2 separate regions of the Homo sapiens genome follow, and region 2 is linked to region 1. The links come from fine-mapping of genetic effects on gene expression. A gene starts in region 1. The other region holds a variant in brackets. All regions are shown on one strand. Distances are from middle to middle. Region 1 holds the start of DKK2 (dickkopf Wnt signaling pathway inhibitor 2). Region 2 has its middle 260 kb from the start of PAPSS1.

Evidence for each region. PIP is the estimated chance that this variant, and not a neighbour inherited with it, causes the effect.
Region 2: its variant is the best candidate, but not a certain one, in a credible set for the expression of DKK2 in lung (TOPMed, PIP 0.54).

Annotation. Positions count from the first base shown.
Region 1 is chr4:107,034,482-107,038,882 of GRCh38, forward strand. It overlaps DKK2 (dickkopf Wnt signaling pathway inhibitor 2), which reads right to left and starts at 1,832. Exons shown (of 4, transcript NM_014421.3): 1 at 889-1,832. The coding sequence starts at 1,110.
Region 2 is chr4:107,453,347-107,457,747 of GRCh38, forward strand. No RefSeq gene overlaps it. Among named protein-coding and RNA genes, the nearest start is that of PAPSS1, 260 kb to the right of the region's middle. The variant C/T (reference allele first, on the strand shown) is at 2,724.

The DNA of each region.
Region 1 (4,401 bases):
CTGTGCGTGTCTATTTGTATAACAGTTTGCAAGTGGCTTTCAATCTATCTGTCTGTATGACAGAGACAGAGGCGCCTGCGGAAAGTTCCCTCTCTCAAAAACGCCTTCAGTGTCCTGCTGTATCGCTGGCGCCTACGACGCTGTCATTGTCATCTCATCATTTTGCTTCCTTCCGGGTGATTTATGTACAATTCTGCGTGAGTGAGAAATGCGCGTCTACTGGAGTTGTTTTGTCTGTGACCTTACTTCTTTGAAGAGAGTAAGTGGTTGGAAGGGAAGGAGACCCTGAAAAGGAGTAATGTCCCCTCCAGATTGTAAAATATAATGGTTAAACGCCCAGTATCTCAATGTCTAGACTGAAATCCCTCTCTGCCACTTATACTAGCTGTGTGCCTTGGGCAAATCGTTAATCAATCCGTGCCTCAATTACTTCATTAGCAGAATGGGAAAGCAACAGCATCTAGCTCACAGAGTTGTGAAGATTAAATGAGTGAATATGTAAAACGCTTAGAACTGTGCCTGGCACGTTATTAGGTGCTATAGGTTAAATGCTATTAACATCTTCATCAGTTGCATCACAGTGTTAAATGGAAGGACCATCCTGACCACTTTCTCCACAGGAAAGCACTAGATCTTGATATGTGCCCACGCCCCAGAGCAAAGGCGAGACAGAATCCTAACCCTTTGACTCCGTGCAGTGCAGGACCAGCAGCCACCCAGACACCCCCCGCCCACGCAGACCCTGTTCGGTGAATCCCTCCCCAGCCGCCTGTTCTCTGTATCTGGGGCCACGCTCCGAATGTTGCAAGATGCAATGGCAAACCGCTAGCCCAAGAGAGCTGGCCCCTGCCTCTTCTGTCTGAAGAATGTGTTTGGGGGTTTTCCTACCTGCCCCAGGTTTTTGCCCTTCTTACTGCCGCCGAATGCCAGTCCTTGGTACATGCCCGCAGATCGATTGGCGGCCTGACCAGGCGTCTCCCCGCCCAGAGAGGACTTGATGGAGTTGAGTTTGGCCCGCGAACTGCCGATCTGTGAGCTCTCCACCATCAGCACCGCGGCCAGTAGGAGCAGGCAGCAGGACGAATCCTTGCTCCGCATCAACGCGGCCATCTCCCGGCGAGGGGGTCCCCAGGAAGACGCAAAGCCCGGAGGGGTGGGAATGCAAAGGGAGGGAGGACCCCAACACGGGGCCCCTCACTTGGGTCGCGGGGGCTTGCAGATTGTGTTCCCTCAACCCTTCCTGGTTCGGGGACCCAGGACCCTATGAACTCAGTCTCACGCCTCAGGACAGAAATTAGCGGAACCCAAGCGAGACCCGCTTCTCCACCAGGACAGGAAGTTCTGCAATAACTGGAAGCAATCAAATGCGAGGCGCTTTCTCGCCAAGGAGGCGTGACCCAAGGTGCAAGAAAACCCAGCCCTGTGGATCGCACCGCTTCCGTTCCTTCTTGCCCCGCACCTCCTTGGTCCCGCCGGGATCTCGGCGGTTTAACTCTCCTCTTAATTGATCAGGAGGCCCGCATCAGCTCCTTCTCCTTCAACTCAGTTGCTTTTCTCTCCTCTCTTTTCCTATCCTTTATGTGTCAAACTTTGCAGGACACAGTGCTCCTTTTCAAAGTTAGCAGGCGCTTTAGTAGGGGATCAGGAGACGTCCCCGGACCGAATCCTCGAGATCTGAAGAGAATCGAGGTCCCCCACACGCGCACTCACAGTTGCCCCGAAGCGTTGTCCCCTGACTCACAAGAGACAGCGAATCGCTGCCAGCGCAGCGATGCCTAGGGAGCGGACTTGCGCTACGCTCGCCGCGGGCTCCCGCTTTCTCTCTCTCTGCTCTCTCCCCAGTCCTCTTTGCTTTTTATAGCTTCCCACAGTGAGGACTTTTTTTTTTTTTTTACCTCCGCCCCCAATTCAAGAGTGACAAAGAGTGAAAATTTTTCTCTCACTCCCCACCGCTTCCGCCCCCCTCCTCTCTGCGTGCTGCTTCTGCTTCTGCGGCTTTCACTCCAGCTTTTCCTCCTCCTCATCCTCCCGCTCTGTCTCCACCCACAACTACTGGAAAAGGGGGATCTAGCTTTTCCATGAGGTGAATGGAACATAGGGGCTCCTAATTCCTGACAACAACTCCAGCGGTTGGAGGGGTCTTTGGAAACTGGCAGAGACCAAAGGTGGAAACGGAGTGGGGCAAGCTGACACCACTTGATCGCTGCCACCCTTTCTTAGATCTTCCCACCCATCTTCAGCCCCTGACTCCGCGAGGAGAGCTGGAAAAGCCCTATGGAAGCTTTAGAGAAGTGAGCATCTGCGCATCTGCTCATTAGTATTGTGTTCTTTGTGAGCTCACGTTTGGTTTTAGACTGTGCCTCCCAGGGAGTGTGTGAAGCTGGAGCCACATAGGTGCGCCAGGGGGTGGCCAATGATCCGGATAGAGGGTCTGGAAGGAAAGGGGCAGACCAAAGAGGGGAAAAGATGAGCCTGTTCGATTTGGGTCTTTTTAGTCTCCTCCTTCGGAACCCCGGGCCCCGCCGCACTCGTAGAATATGTCTATGTCTCTGAGGGACTGGGAAGAAGGGGATGCTCTGGGTACGCTCCAAGGGTTTGGACCTCACAGCTCGAATGAGCATCTTTACCATGCCAGGCAACTGCTCTTTTTGCGAATAGGAAATCCCAGATAGGAATGAACGGGGGCAGGGAGCCTTTGAGATCCTGTCTTCCTTGGCTTCCTGCCTTCTAGCCCCAGTGAATTACAAGAGAAGCCATTCCTGTCAGCCCCCGGGTCTCTCCAGGTCCAATTCCCTTCGGCCGAAGGTCGAAGGCTGCTCCGGGAACGACTGGGACGCGCTGGCGCTTGGGGGCGCCAGTGGCAGCCGTTCAGCGAGCCACGGAATTGCTGCAGGAGACAAGCGCTGAGTTCGGTGATGTCTGGTGGCCAAGTGCGAGACTTTCCAAGCAAAGCAAGGGATTGTTCGAAAGTTATTGCATTTCTGCTTCGCAGACACTAATGTCCAGGAGCAGAGAAATCCAAGCATTGAGCCACAACTTGAAGTTAGAAGGCAGCTAGCCGCCAGGGGAGGATACAAGCAGCATCCTCTTCAGAATTTTTGGACCTAGATTTCACAGCTTTCACACCTGATCCTGGCGCATGTCCATGAGTACGAATTAAACTTGTCGCTAAGTGAGAACGTTGGTGACTCTTATTTTCCCCCAAAACAACGCAGAGTTCTAAAGTGTGGATTTAGAGCTATTTTCTCCCAGACAGCTCCAGTTTTGCAAATTTCTCAGTCCTGACCTATGAGTCTGTCTGCCCTGAAATTCTTCATTTTCAGATTTTTTTTTTAATACACAAGGAAACGGGGATTAAAATATGCACCCTCTGGCATGTGTTCTTATCTTTTGAATTTCCTTTCTTTAAGGTAGAGATTTTTCACATTTTAGTGTGTGGGGTTTTTTTTCCACTTTTTAAAAATATGCCAGGAATAACAATATGGGTGACCCCTGAAGGACATCATACTAAGTGAACTCGACCAATCACAGAAAGACAAATCCACTTATAGGAGGTACCTAAAATAGTTAAATGCATAGAATCAAAGGTTGGAATGATGGTTACCAGGAATTGGAAGGAGAGGAGAATGGGGAGTTACTATATCAATGATCATAAAGTTTCAGTTAACTAAGATGAATAAACTCTAGAGATTTGTCATATGGTATTGTACCTATAGCCAACAATAATGCATTGTATTTTTAAAAACTTATTGAGAAGGTAGATCTCATGCTATATAGATATAAATTTTATATGTGTGTGACTTTATATACATGTATAATATATATATGTATTTATACATATAACATGATTGTAGTAAGAACATTTAACATCTATATATGCCCAGTAATAAATTTGTAAGTTTATAAAGTTAAGTGAGGCATTCTAGGCACTAATAAAAGGCAAGGAAATGGGTCGTTACTCTATAAATAAGTACTTAACGATTCCAAGCTTAGACTTTACAGAAGAGTATATCTTTTGCCTTCATTCTGATTTGCCAATCAGAAAGCATGACAGAAATTGAGAAACTTAAGTTAGGAGTATACTGGTTTAAATATTTTTGAAAAGTAGCTTAGAGCAAAAGGAAAAGATAGAAGCTAAACATGTAGGCAACAGATCACTCTACATTCACTTGGAAGGGTGTAGACTTTGACCATATGTTGAAGAACAAACCCAAATGAACCATGAGAAAATGTGAAGATGCTTTGCCTATTTCTGTCACTTCCTTCTTTCTTTACCTCTAAATAAAATAATATCCCACATACACAGGCCTAACTTTACTCACATGTACTGCTAAACAGAAAACATATATCAAGCACAACACATTTACTCTCAGCTCTGAGTACCATCCTAAACACATTATC
Region 2 (4,401 bases), 420 kb after region 1:
CAGTCAGTCTCTCTCTTAGATAAAGTTATGTGCAGCAATAAAATTTTAAACATGAACTCAGTATATGACTAGCTGTGAAATAAAGTTTCTTGATCATTTCTGTTTATTCTGAAACTGACAGACAGGTGTGCCTTATTTTTCCAGAGGCTTACAATGAGGTCAGAAGAAAAATACAATACTTTGTACATTCCGCTAATACTGTGAACTGAATTATTGTAACATGCAGCTGTTCTCAATTTTGAAAAGCCAATGCTATGCTCTGGATTACAGAACTTTATTTTTTTTATTTAAAAATGAATTAAAATAGGAAGCACAATCAAAGAGCAGAGTACAGCTTAGCTCAGGATCCAAAAATACAAATAAGAAAAATTTTACCTAGAGACAAAAATTATATAAGTTTTAGTAAAATACCTGTTTGGACAGTTTTAAATGTGGTGGAGTAAGGAATGTGTCATTTATTTATACATAGCCAAGTTTAGGGCCACAAGAGACAATCATGGACCCAAGAAATGGGGACATTTGTGGCAAATATGACCAAAAAAAAAACTCTAGCCCTGATAGATCATATAGTCTATGAGGGAAGCTAGACATTAATAAATAATTACAACATAAATATTTAAACACATATGAGATAACTTATAGAAAAGCACAGGGAACTGTGAGAACTTCTCATGGGAGAACCTGAGCTGTTTGGGGTTGGGGGTGGGTGACAGAGCAGGCCCCCTTGATGAAGTCCTACGGGAAGGGAGCAGGAAGCCAGATAAAAGAACTGGCAGAGCCAGGGAGCACATTCTCCAGTGACTTTGTGATATGCTGGCAAAGGGACAGTGTAAACTGCATATTTCCAGATATGGGATCTACTTGGGATGTGTGGTGAAACTAATTATTCAAACTTCATGACCAAAAAAACACACAAACATCTGGTCTCTTAATTTTATTAGCACATATTATCACCGATTATGTCTTTTAATTTAAAAATATAATCAGTTCAATCTTTATCTCTCATGTCACAAGGATTACTTTATCTTAAGAGATTTTAGTTAAATTGTTCAATAGTCCTTTCTCCCTGTAGTGGGCACAACCCATTTCCTCATTTACATTGTTCTTGCCATCTCTCCATTATATGGAGTCTCCAGCCCCTTAGACGACTTAGCCCCTTTTCCCTGAGGTGACTATAATACCTCATGCAAACCTACATATTTTTTCTACTGTTGAATACTCACATGTGAGCTTTTTCTTGCCCATCCACAGTAAGGAGCATAAAACCCAAAAGAAAGAACAAACAGGCTTCGTATAACTAGGTCACACCTATCACATTTTACGTTCCAAGACAATTAGTTGGGTTGGAATTTCCCAATGAAAATATACATTTTATTAAACTGGAAACAGAACCTTGATAATGATTCTTGGATCCCAGCATGAGCAAAGTATTATATGTTCCTGTCAGGGAAAGAAATAAAAGTGAGTGCAAAAAAATCTAGTGATTTTTTGAAGTAAAAGTGATTGCAAAACATTTTTTATTGGCTTAGAGTAGAAATCAAATATTGATGCCTTATTTGGAATTGCTTCAACCTAGAACATTCAATATTTATTTGTTTATTCATCTTAAAAAGCATGTGAGAAACTAGAAAATGCAGATAACTTATTAAATGCCTCTACTTATTTACCTAACTGGAGTATTGGCAGCAAAATTTATTTCTTTCTAGTACTATGGGAGATTTATCCGTGATTCAATGGTATTTTGTTGTTATATTTAAACTGGAATAAAGTAGATATATAGAAAATTATATAATGATTTTAAATGACAAAAGGAGGCATTGTTATATTAAATTATTTTCACAGATGTTAGTTCACTGAGGATTATCAAATAATTGAAAAAGATTATGATGTGGACTGATCATTTGAGTCTAGGAATTCTAGAACAGCCTGTGCGACATGGCAAAACACCATCTCTACAAAAAAAATACAAATATTAGCTGGGCGGGGTCGTGCATGCCTGTAGTCCTAGCTACTCAGGAGGCTGGGGCAGGAAAATCACTTCAGCCCAGGAGGTGAAGGTTGCAGTGAGCCGAGATCACGCCACTGCACTCCAACCTGGGCAACAGAATGAGACACCTCTCTCTCTCTCTCTCTCTCTCTCTCTCTCTCTCTCTCTCTCTCTCTCTTTCACACACACACACACACACACACACACAATGAAAAAAAGTCATTTTCCTATAGAATGCTCTCCAGTTACTGATAAAGAATACTCCCCTTTCTCAATGTTTCCTAGAAATCTCATTTGAGTTTAACAAAGTTCAATTTAAGAAGTTTGATCACATTTAATGTTTTTATTTCCTTTGCCACGGTTTTTCCCCCTTCAAACTAACTTCTAACATAAATCAACATTAAAAATTTTTTTTCAGAAAAGACACTTTATGTAAGGTAGTAGAGTTCACCAAAGTACCCAGATATCATGAACCAAGAGAAGCTCTGGGAATGATAATCCTTTGACAAACCAATGCAGCCACCTGAAGCCAATTATAATTTAGGTTTAACAAAAAAATGGGAAGACTTTAGCTTTTACCTAAATCTCGAAAGGCCTCAAACATCCCTGAAGACCGATCATGTTTCAGATGGGGTCTTTTATAGTTACGTATTTCACATATGTTGTTTTTTCCTGGAGCTAGAATAAGATATGTGAAAGTATCATAGGAAACACTTTTATTTGTAGTATTTCTAAT[C/T]CGTGGAAGGAGAAAGTAAACACACATCAAAGTAAAATCAATTCTTATGAGATATCCACCACAGTTCTTCATCCACCAGAAAAAAAAAAAACAGAGAAATATTCAAACTGGAGCCTCCAAACATTTTGCCATTCATCTATCACTAGGGTACTGTGTCTTCTGTCTCTTTTGTACACTTTTGATTCCTTAGTGGGCAGATGGATATAATACAACGGTTAGCCTCAATAATTATTCCAAATTTTAAAAATTGATTGAAAAAAAAAACACTGGATGCAAGCCAATTTTATAAACTCAAGTTAAAAGATTTGGGTGCTCAGAGAGAATGTATTTTAGAATGCAGAACAAAAAAGAAGATGGCTTTTTATCTGTTATTGGAAATAATCACTGCTTGCCCTGACAATAGTTCACAGATGAACTTATGTTTTTCTGTAATCAAGTTTAGGATGAGACCTAGTCATCTGAAGTTGAAAAAATGTGAAATTTAAACTTTATTAGTTTCAGGACTTTGCTGTAATGTAGAATAAACTAATGATTCAGTCTGTACTTAAGGACTATTCAGTCTGTATTAAGGACTATGAAGGACTGTCCTACACTATTGACAGTATCAACTTCCAATAACCAACAATGTCTTACATACAGCTCATTATCCAGTGAAGTCAAAGCCATTATTATATTGACTGTGGATCTTATATCCTGTAACTGTTCATGGTAGCAATGGTTGTACTGGAACAACAATAATAAATTTATCTATTCACTCAACATGCATTGACTGAGTGCTTACTCTATACTCCATTCTCCACAAATTGGCCAAAATTATATTTTTAAAATGTAAATCAGATCATATTATTCCCTACTGAAAATACACTAAATTAGTGGTTCTCAATCTCTGGCAATTTGCCTCCCCAGGGACATTAGACAATGTCTACAGACACATTTAACTGTAACAACTCAGGAATGAATGCTACTGGTTTCTAGTGGACAGAGGCCAGAAATGCTGGTAAACATCCTACAATGCACAGGACAGCCCCACAACAACAAATCTGGTCTAAATCTTTATAGCGCTGCTGTGAAGAAACCCTGCACTAAATCCAAATCCCTTAACCTAATTTGCAAGGTCATGTAGTCTGACTTCTGCCTCTCTCTTTAATCTTGCCTCTGGCCACATTCTCTCCTGCTCATTATGCTCTAGCCATGCTGGTTATACTTTGTATTCCTTGAACCACCCAAGCCAGTGTGTCTCAGGACCCTTTAACCTGCTAATCTCTGATTCCTTTTCCTGTAATGTCCTTCTACCTGGAATGGTCTTCTACCAAAACTTTGCATGGCTGCCTCCTTCTCAATATTTAGATCTCTGTTCAAATGTCACTTGCTCAGAGAGAGTTTCTGTAACCATTTCATCTAAGGCAGGGGTCTCTCAGACTGTGAACCGATGCCAATCTGTGACCTGTCAGGAACCTAGACACACAGCAGTCAGTGAGCAGGTGAACCAGCATTACCACTTGAGCTCTGTCTCCTGTAAGATCAGCGGGACAGCATTAGATTCTCATAGGAAGGTGAACACTATTGTGAACTGCACATGTGAGTAATCTAGATTGCACATTCCTTATGAGAATCTAATGTTCCCCCCACCCCCTGGTCCATGGAAAAACTGTCTTCCATGAAACTGATCCCTGGTGCC